Linked DNA regions of Homo sapiens: region 2 is linked to region 1. The links come from fine-mapping of genetic effects on gene expression. A gene starts in region 1. The other region holds a variant in brackets. All regions are shown on one strand. Distances are between the middles of the regions.

Region 1 (5,383 bases):
TTGTTATTCAAATCAAGTTCTAGTGTTTTTATGTGAGATTATATAATTTACAGTGTTGTTTTATATACTTTTGAATAAATGTACACTATTAAAAATAATCCTCTTTGCTGCCAATATTTTTTGATTGTTGATTATAAACATCCTTTGTTTAAATATATTTATTACTCACTTTGGAATGTGGGGGGGGATTAGCTTGTAGCATTGCAATAGAAGAAAGAGAATTGGAATAAAAGTGTCCAGCACATCTCCCACCCGAGAAGGAAAATGCACACTGTTCTTAGGACACTTCCAATTTCAGCCCAGCTGATCTTGTCCAGCTGGAGTCGCTCGTTTAGCTCTCGTGAGGGCTTGGATGGTTGACATCCACCGCAGAAAATGGTGTCATGTCCTGATACCTGTCCTGTTGTCCTGTCCATTTATCCAAGACAGTGAGAGGAGCCAGGCAGGACCTCCCTGTGTTAAAGTTGTCTGACCTGTGTAAGATAGGCCTGAGCTCAGTGACCTCAAAAGGACCTTTTGAAAACCAGTTTCTTCCTACTGCAATCCCCAAATCTCCAGAGCATGTGGCTCCTGCGTGGATTACGGTAACAGTGATGTGTGTTGATCCAGCCATCAACATCTTCAACTGTAACACGAACCACCAGCCAAAGGCCAAAGCCCAGACTCCCTGACCACAACAGCAGGTGGCAGGAAGCACTCCTCCCCACTTTACTCCCAGCTGCCTTCTGTTCCAGCTCCTGCCCCTGAGCCTCCTGGAACCCCTTTCTAAGCATGATTCCCTATCTGTAACCGCCATGTCCACTCCTCTCATGAACTAAACCCTTGCTTGTGACCATCACATGTATACTGAATGTAAAGAATTATTAGCTAGTAACAGGTGGTAATCTACTAAAAGGGGGTAAAAAGGAAAACAGAAGTCGCAAATGAAGGAAACAGCTGTGACAGCTAGGCACAGAAACAGGCCAGATGTGGGTGGAGGAGCTGCCTGTAGACGCCGAGCACCTCCTGGAGGCTGAGCCTCCAGCCCCAGCATGCTTGGGAAGAGGCCAAGTCAGGGCAGCCTCCAGCTGGAGGTCACCTGTCCCCCTTAAGTTTCCGGGCACTGTCTCTGTCCCCTGCCTTTGATTTTCTCTTGTCACCAGCCAGCTCTGACAGATGGAGCACATACAAATCCCCTCTTACCCCACCCAGTGGGTGGCCCAGTGCCTGGATCCAGGACGCCTGTGCCAGGGCCTCCCCATGTGGGTGACTATACCTGGTGCAGGTATTGCGGGGGCCGTGAGGGAGGTGGGACAAAGGTCTTCAGGACACCCCCATTAGCAGGAGGACAGAGCACCGCACATGGGCTTTAGAGCCCTATGGAGCCGGTTCCCATCCCAATTCGGCCTTCACCAGGGGAAGTCCCTTGACTCATCTGAGCCTCTGTGTCCTTGATGTGAAGTGCGGACTTGCACAGGTGACAGAGAAGAAGCAATGAGATGATGCAGGGTGACCCCACAGCACCCCGTGGTCCCCAGGAAGTTGCCAGAGGCCTGAAGGGGGCTTCTCTCCTGACTGGATCTGGAAGCCTGGGTCCTTTGCCAGGGCCACCTAACAGAGTGTGGCCATGAAACTCTCGCACTCAGTGGAGATGGATTAGGGATGTTGGAGATCCCAGCCATGGGTGACAAAGAGGGGTTCAGAGGGAAAGCCCAGGGTGGGAGTGGGTATCCATGGACACAGCTGCAAGCGCTTAGTAACCAGAAGGGTCCCCCATCTCAAACACCTGTGGCCTGCTAACTCACCCCAGGACACCCAGTCCTGCCTCATCCACAGCCAGCCCGGGCAGATAGGAATGGAGCAGAGCAAGGCAGGGGCCTTGGGGTATGTCCAAGCTCCTCCTGAGCATCCCAGGTGCTGCCTTTCCCCTGCAAGGGTCCAACGAGGAATGGATCCCCTGGGTCACAACGTAGGACTGTGCTCTCCCTAGGGAGGCCTCCTGGGCTGCAGCACAGTCAGAACAACACAGAGGGGCTGACGGTAGCCAGAGGGTTTCACCCTAGGAGACTTAGCCTACACGAGCGTCAGACCTCCCCAGAGCTGCACAAAGGTTCTTCAGAAAGTAGCCAGTCCTGGCATTGTCCACTCAATATGTTCCACCTGAACTTAGAGTGAAAACCAGACTCATTTGCCCTATGGGTCCTTCCCCATCTGACCTTCACCTGCTCCTCTCCATCCTCCCCTCCCAGCTCACTCCTCCCACTCATGACCAGCCAGGCTGTTCTTTATTCCCTACTATTGTAGGTGTGCCCACCTGGTCTCTGCCTCGGGGCCTGTGCACTTGCCCTCTCTTTTGCCTAAGATGCAGCCCCCAAGCTCAGATCACCCATGAATGCCTCCCTCTTGTCTTTCTGCCTTTGTTCAGATTTCATCTCTCAAGATGCCCTCCTTCTCACTGTCATATTTCCTCCCCACCCCAAGGCAACCACCATCTATGCAGTCATCCTGTTTATTGTATCCTTAGCTCCTCTCACCAGTTGAATTCTTCATTTATTTTTGTTGTTTAACTCTCCACTTAGAATACAAGTTTCATGAGGGCAGGACTGTGTCTCTCACATTCAATTCTATATTGCTTAGGCCCTAGATCAATAAGTAATGTTTACTGACTGAATGAATGAAAAGAGGGCAGCCCCCACCCACCACCACTTGCTCCTCCCAATCTCAATGTGGACACTAGGATTTCTTTCTCTCAACTGCAAAACACCGTGCCCGAGAGACTAATTCACCTGCTTCAGTCTCTCCAGACATAACTGGTTAGAAATCGCTGTGGGGGAATCTGGATCTGCACTCTTTTTCTCTTCATCCTCTACCCTCTTCCCCTCCCCCACAGGGTCAGCCACCTGGCAGGGCATCTGAATGTCCCAGCTGGACCCAGATTTTGCCCAGGTGCTGCACCCCCTGCCTTGCCCCACAGGCCTTTGTTCTCCCACAGGCTCCCTTCTCAAAGCAGAGCCCTGAAGACTTCAATGATGTCAATGAGGCCACCTGTTTGTGATGTGCAGGCACAGAAGAAAGGCACAGCTCCCCATCAGTTTCATGGAAAATAACTCAGTGCCTGCTGGGAACCAGCTGCTGGAGATCCCTACAGAGAGCTTCCACTGGGGGCAACCCTTCCAGGAAGGAGTTGGGGAGAGAGAACCCTCACTGTGGGGAATGCTGATAAACCAGTCACACAGCTGCTCTATTCTCACACAAATCTACCCCTTGCGTGGCTGGAACTGACGTTTCCCTGGAGGTGTCCAGAAAGCTGATGTAACACAGAGCCTATAAAAGCTGTCGGTCCTTAAGGCTGCCCAGCGCCTTGCCAAAATGGAGCTTGTAAGAAGGCTCATGCCATTGACCCTCTTAATTCTCTCCTGTTTGGCGGAGCTGACAATGGCGGAGGCTGAAGGTAAGAAAATTGAACCAGATTTATTCACCAAAACAGAGAAGTTCTTCTCTTAAGAGGCCTCTTTCAAAATTTTTCAAAGTGTTTATATCTGTTGGCCCCAGTTCAGAGAAAAATGTACTCTAATGCTCTTGGAGGGGATTTTAAATTAGTTCTAATTTTATTTGGCTCATCTGACAATGTCCATAAAAATATCAAAAGTGTATAGAATTTTACTGAGTAATTTACTGCTAAGAGTTTATGTTTTGGAAATAAGCATAAAAGTGTCCAAAGATATATGTATAAATATGTGCACTTACATAATTGTAAACTACAACATGAATTTTCATTATTTCTTACGGTAAATCCATAAAATGGAACACTCTTTTTTGCAACTTAAAAAAAAATGATGGCTGGGGGCGGTGGCTCACGCCTGTAATCCCAGCACTTTGGGAGGCCAAGGTGGGTGGATCACGAGGTCAGGAGTTCGAGACCAGCCTGGCCAACATGGTGAAACCCCATCTCTACTAAAAATACAAAAATTAGCCAGGTGTGGTGATGCGTGCCTGTAGTCCCAGCTACTCGGGAGGCTGAGGCAGGAGAATCGCTTGAACCCGAGAGGTGGAGGTTGCAGTTAGCTGCGATCATGCCACTGCACTCCAGCCTGGGTGACAGAGCAAGACTCCGTCTCATAAAAAAAAAAAAAAAAGACTCTGATCTATAATGTGTCCATAGACCACATTAAGAGAAAAAAGAGATCTGAAGTTTGTGTACAATATGATGGTTCTTATGTTTGAAATATATACATTCAAGCATTTTAAATGTCTAGAAATAGAAGAGGAAAGGAAAAGGAGTGGAAGAATTTACACCAAGGTTTTAGTGATGATTGTTTCTGGATGGATGGGGTTATGGGAGTATATGGGAGAATAAATAAAAATAAAGCTTTGTTCCTATGTAGGTGGGGTTTTTGACCATTAGTCAAAATCTTGGTGGGATTTTGAATTAGTACTAATTTTATTTGGGCCCATCTGACAACATACATAAAAATATAAGAATTTACCAAATAATTTTTAAAAATTTTATAGAAAAAAATTTTCACTATGTTGCCCAGGCTGGTCTCGAACTCCTGAGCTCAAGTGATCCACCCGCTTTGGCCTCCCAAAGTGCTGGGATTACAGGTGTGAGTCACCACGCCCAGCCCCTTACCGGGTAATTTCACTGCTAACAGCTTATCTTTAGGATCCAGTTATTTTTCCTCTTCCCCTTTTCTCTTTCTTCTCTTCTTTCTCCTTTTTAATAACAGCTTTATTAAGATATGATTAACATACCATAAAATCCACCATTTTAAAGTATACAATTTAGTGTTTTTTAGTATATACACAGAATTGTGCAACAATCACCACTATCTAATTCCAGAACATATTCTTCACCCCCAAAAGAAACTGTCTCAGGCTCAGCATGATGGCTCAAGCCTACAATCCCAGCACTTTGGGGGGCTGACATGGGAGCATTGCTTGAGGCTGAGAGTTTGAGACCACCCTGAACGACGTAGTGAGACCTCGACTCTACAAAATTAAAAAAAAAATTTTTTTAGCCAGGCATGGTGGTACATGACTGTAGTCCCAGCTACTCTGGCGGCTGAGGTGGGAGGATCACTTGAGCCCAGTAGTTTGAGGCTGCAGTAAGCTATGATTGTGCCATCTCAATCCAGTATAGGTAACAGAGTGAGACTCTGTCTGTCCCTCTCTCTATATATATATATATTTATATATAGTCTCTCTATATATATAGTCTCTCTATAGTCTATATATAGTCTTTATATAGTCTATATATATAGTCTCTATATATAGACCAATGTTTTATATATATATAAATATATCTAACAATATATATAACTGTATATTATATATAGACTAATGTGATGAATATTAGTGTACAAGTTTCTGTGTGGACATATATATATATATATATATATGT
Region 2 (5,383 bases), 45 kb before region 1:
CCTCTTTTGGTTTTGTTTTCACTTTTGCTGGAGCAGGTTTATCTGACAACCTCATGGGCCTCCTCTTGGGCCCTTCCTTCACTGCCCCTTCAGCTGGGCTGAGCTTCCTCTGGTGCCTGAGGGCTGAAGTGCACCATGAGCCTTCATGAAGCTGGGCTGCTGGACTGCCTGCACACTGCCACTTGTCCTGCCACCTGAGCTTTTATTTTAGCTGTTCAAATAGGTGTGCTGCGATATCTCATCACGGTCTTATTTTGAATTTCCTAATGGATAGTAATGTTGAATATCTTTTCATGTTCATATGCTGTTTGCATATTCTCTTTGGTGAAATATCTCCTGTCTCGCCCATGTTCTAAATTGATTTTTTTTTAACTGTTGAGTTTTGAGAGTTCTTAATATATCCTAGGTATGAGTCATCTGTCATACCTAGGTTTGCAAATAATATATTCTCCCATCTGTAGCTTGTATTTTCATCCTCTTAACTGAGTCAGAGGGCAGAATTTTTTATCTTTAATGAAGTCAAATTTATTAATTTTATTTTATCGATTGTACTTTTGGTGTCATGTTTAAGTACTTTTCTGCAATTCTTAGTTGCTAAAGATTTTCTCCAGTTTCCATCCAAAAGATCATTTAAATCTATGACCCATGTTGAGTTAATTTTTGTGTTGGATGTGAAGTTTAGGTGAAAGAATTTGGATATCTAATTGCTCTAGCACCATTTTTGGAAAGTGCTATCCTTTCTGCACCACCCCCCCACTCCTTTTTTTTGTAACAGACTCTCACTCTGTTGCTGAGGCTGAAGGGCAGTGGTACGATCTCAGCTCACCACAGCCTCGACTTCTTGGGCTCAAGTGATCCTCCCACCTCAGCTTCCCAAATAGCTGGGACTACAGGCATGCGCCGCCATGCCTGGCTAATTTTCATATTTTTTTGTAGAGACAGGGCTTTGCCATGTTGCCCAGAGTAGTCTTGAAATGCTAGGCTCAAGTGATCTGCCCGCCTTGGCCTCCCAAAGTGCTGGGATTATAGGTGTGAGCCACCACCCCTGGCCAGTTTTGCACCTTTATCAAAAATCAATTGAGCATATTTGTGAGGGTCTATTTCTGGCCCTCTATTATGTTCCATTGATTTATATTTCAATCCCCACATAATACTAAACAGTATTGGATACTCTACACTGGGAAGAGTGATTCCCAATCATTTAATTCTTTTTTTGAAAGTTGTTTTAGGCTGAGCGTTTAATCCCAGTACTTTGGGAGGCCAAGGCAGGCGGATTACTTGAGGCCAGGAATTCAAGACCAGCCTGGCCAACATGGTGAAACCCCATCTCTACAAAAAATGCAAAAAATAGTCAGGCGTTGTGGCGGGCGCCTATAGTCCCAGCTACTCGGGAGGCTAAGGCATGAGAATTGCTTGAACCCAGGAGGTGGAGGTTGCAGGAAGCCGAGATTGCACCATTGCACTCCAGTCTGGGTGACAGAGCAAGACTCCATCTCAAAAAAAAAAAAAAAAAGAAAAGAAAAAAGAAAAACAAGTTGTTTTAGCCATTCTACTACTTTTGCCTTCTCATATAATTTTAAAAAGCCTTGTTTTTGTCTACAAAAAGTCTTGGTGGGATTTTGATACAAATTACATTAAGCCTGCATATCAATAGGGAGAACTAACAATTTTACTATGTTGAGTCACCAAGCCATAAACAGGGTATGTCCCTCAATTAGATCTTCTCCGATTTCTTTCATCAGCATTTTACAATTTTCAGCATATATATCCTGTACATGTTTTGTTAGATTCATACCTAAGTATTTAGTTTTCTTTGGAGCAACTATAAATAGTATAGTGAGTGTGTCTCTTTTAAGTTGAAAAGCTTACTTTTATTCTTACAATTTTCTACTAGGAAGCCAACATTTAATTTAATAATTCATTGTTGACAGGTGAGTTATAAAAAGAAATTGTTTTTAATTTTGGTTTCCACACATCATCATTTGTACAGTTAAGCCTCAGTATTTGTGGGAGACTGGTTCCAGGACCTCCCTCCCCAAACCCACCCTTGTGGATACCAAAATCTGCAGATGCTTAAGTCCCTTATATAAGATGACAATACTTAATAAAAGTAAATTCTATGTAAATACTTGTTATACTGTATTACTTAGACAATAAGGACAGGAAAAAAGTCTACATGTTCAGCACAGACACAATTATTTTTTCTCTATTTCTGATCCACAGTGGGTTTAATCCATGATGCAAAAGCCATGGATATGGAGGGCCAACTGAATATAGATAAGCAACTAATTTTGATCTTTCATCCTGTGACTTTTGCTGAACTCATTTATCAGTTCTAAACCTTTTTTAAAAAAATATTCCTTGGGATATTCTACATAGACCATCTTGTCATCTGTAAATAAGGACAGTTTTCTTTCATTGCAATCTATATTTAATTTTTGTTGTCTTACTGCAGTGGCTATAACTTCCAGTACTATGTTGAGTAAGAGTGGTGACGGCTGGGTACGGTGGCTCATGACTGTAATTCCAGCAATTTGGGAGGCTGAGGCAGGTGGATCACGAGGTCAGGAGATCAAGACCATCCTGCCTAACATGGTGAAACCCTGTCTCTACTAAAAATACAAAAAAA[T/AT]TAGCCAGGCATGGTGGCGGGCACCTGTAGTCCCAGCTACTCAGGAGACTGAGGCAGGAAAATGGCATGAACCCAGGAGGCAGAGCTTGCAGTGAGCCGAGATCATGCCATCGCACTCCAGCCTGGGCGACAGAGCAAGACTCTGTCTCAAAAAAAAAACAAAAACAAAAACAAAAACAAAATAAACCCAGTGGTGGGAAAGGACATCCTTGCCTTATTTTTCACTTAGGAGGGACGCATTCAGTCTTTCACCATTAAGTATTATGTTAGCTATAGGTTTCTTGTAGATATCCTTTATGAAGTTGAGGCAGCTCCTCTCAATTTCTAGTTTTCTGAGTTTCTTTCATCATAGATTGGTGTTAGAATTTTAAAAATACTTTTCTGTGTTAATTTATATAGTCATATGAATTTTCTTCTAGTCCGCTGAAATGGTAGATTACATTAACTTTCGAAATGGCTGAAATGGAGTGTTTTACAAATGTCAAATAGATCCTGATGACTGATAGTGTGCTATTCAGTTCTATATCTTTCCTATAATTTTGTCTAACAGTTCTATCAATAACTGAGCGTGGGGTGTTAGGTATTCAACTATAATTATGGTTATGTCCATTGATCCTTTTGTATCTATCAGTTTTCTGCTTCATGTAGTTTGAACCTCTGTTTACTGCATACCCATTTAGGATCACTATGTCATTGTCTTTTTATTATTATGTAATGTCCCTCTTTTTATCTAGTGAATTTCTTTGCTCTGAAGCCTGCTTCACCTGATACTAATATACGACTTCTGCTTTTTAAAAAATTAATGTTTTCATGGCATATCTTCCTACTTTTGACCTACCTACGTCATTATATTTGAAAAGTGTGTTTTGTCAACTGCATATAGTTGGGTTGTATTTTATAACCCATTCTATACATTTCTTTTAATTGGTGAATCTAGCCATTTATATTTATAGTAATTATTAAAATATAATTATCTTAGATACTTCCTCTACATATATTAAGTACCACATCATATGGTGTTATAACTTTTACTTCAACCATCAAATATGATTTAAGAGACTTATGAGAAGGATAGCCTGTCATATTTACCTCTGTTTTTATCCATTCCATTGATCTTTCTTCCTTTCTGAAGTTCTAAGCATTCTTTTGTCATCATTTCCTTGGATAACTTGCTTTATCCATTCTTTAAGGGTAGGCCTGCCAGTGCAAAATAATCTGTTTTCATTTATTTGAGACTGTCTTTACTTGCTGTTTGTTCCTAACGGATATTTTTGCTGGATATACAATTTGTGACTCACAGTTCTTTTACAGCACTTGAAAAATGTGCCTCTTCTTATTGGCCACCATAATTTCAGATGAGAAATCAGCTGTCAACAAACTTGGTATTTCTCTATGAGAATATGTTGTTTCTCTCCAGCTTTCTTTTAGAATTTATTTTTTATTTTTTCATTTTCAAAAAATTATGATATGACTTGGCATAGACGTATTTGAATTTATCCTGTGTAGGACTTACTCAGCTTCTTGAATCTGTGAGTTCACGCCTTTCCCCATTTCAGCTTTGGGGAAACTTCAACCATTATTTCTTCAGATATTTTTTCAGCTCCAAACTCTCCCTTCCTCTCCTTATAACACCCCAGCTAGAAAATTAAAGTATCGTCTGATTTTGTGGGGCAGTGGTGACATCACCCTGGTAGAACTGAAGTACTGCTTGTTTCAGCTGAGCAGGGGCTGGAAGTTTAGCTTCTACTCGGCTCTGTTGATACCACCCAGTAGCAGAATTGGAATGCTGCCCACTTCTTCTGACTGAGAGATGGAAGAACAGCTCACCATTTAGCTTGCTGATACCACCCCAGTAGAGAAACCAGAGTACAACTGCCTCATTCAACAGGGCAGGCAGGAGGGCAGTATTTCCATTGGTGTTTGACTGGAGTAGACAAGTATTATTGAAAGGTTTTGTTTTGTTAGGACTCCCTTTTCCTGGTCCTTTGGTTAGAAGGAATAGGCTTTTCTTGAAGCTCTTAATTTTTGTCCCCACTGGTTGTCCCAGGTTGCAGACTTCTTTGGCACCCCATCCAAGATATATGGAAGGCAGAAAAACTCAACATTGCATTGCTCCTCAAATCCCACAGTCCCTAAGAGTCTGACTTCTTTCTACCTTTAACAGTCCTTGTATGTTTCTTCGTTGTGCTATGTCCAAGGATTTTTATTTGTAAAATGAGGATCTGAGAGGAATGGCAATGTTCTATCTCAGCTGGACCCAGAAGTGTCCCAAGCAGTTTTTGAATCCCTGTATACTGTATAGTCTTTTGATTTTTTTTTTGCCATTACACATAACAACTAGTTATCATTGATACAGACTATCAACAATTGAAGACTATGCCATCTCATATAACAAGTAATTATCATTGATGTAGACCGCCAATTATTGAACACTAATGTTATCTTTCTATATCCTAAGAACCACCTTTATTTAAATAAATTAAATTCTTAAAACTTTAACACTGTTGGAAACCTTAAACAAATCTCAACCAATACAAATATCTAACTTTACACATTGAAAAAAAAAATCAAAAGATTTAACCAGTAAGGCAAAATAGTTAAGCCAGGTCTCTGACTGAGTCCTGAATTCTAGCCTAGTGCAATATTTCAGCACGCTATATCTATGTAAAGAATGGGGAACATACTAAATACTCAGCCATTCCTCAATCAAATCAGGACTGTCACAAACTTGGAATTATGAGACCAGGGTATAAG

What was found. PIP is the estimated chance that this variant, and not a neighbour inherited with it, causes the effect. A credible set is the group of variants that fine-mapping cannot tell apart.
Region 2: its variant is the best candidate, but not a certain one, in a credible set for the expression of CUZD1 in whole blood (TOPMed, PIP 0.89).

Annotation. Positions count from the first base shown.
Region 1 is chr10:122,843,809-122,849,191 of GRCh38, reverse strand. It overlaps CUZD1 (CUB and zona pellucida like domains 1), which reads left to right and starts at 3,335. Exons shown (of 9, transcript NM_022034.6): 1 at 3,335-3,430. The coding sequence starts at 3,349. FAM24B-CUZD1 (FAM24B-CUZD1 readthrough) reads left to right here. Exons shown (of 11, transcript NR_037915.1): 3 at 2,972-3,430. FAM24B (family with sequence similarity 24 member B) reads left to right here. Exons shown (of 4, transcript NM_152644.3): 4 at 1-114. RefSeq lists enhancers at 1,598-2,479, 2,546-3,045, 3,046-3,547.
Region 2 is chr10:122,889,189-122,894,571 of GRCh38, reverse strand. It overlaps the pseudogene C10orf88B. Among named protein-coding and RNA genes, the nearest start is that of FAM24B-CUZD1, 12 kb to the right of the region's middle. The variant T/AT (reference allele first, on the strand shown) is at 2,630.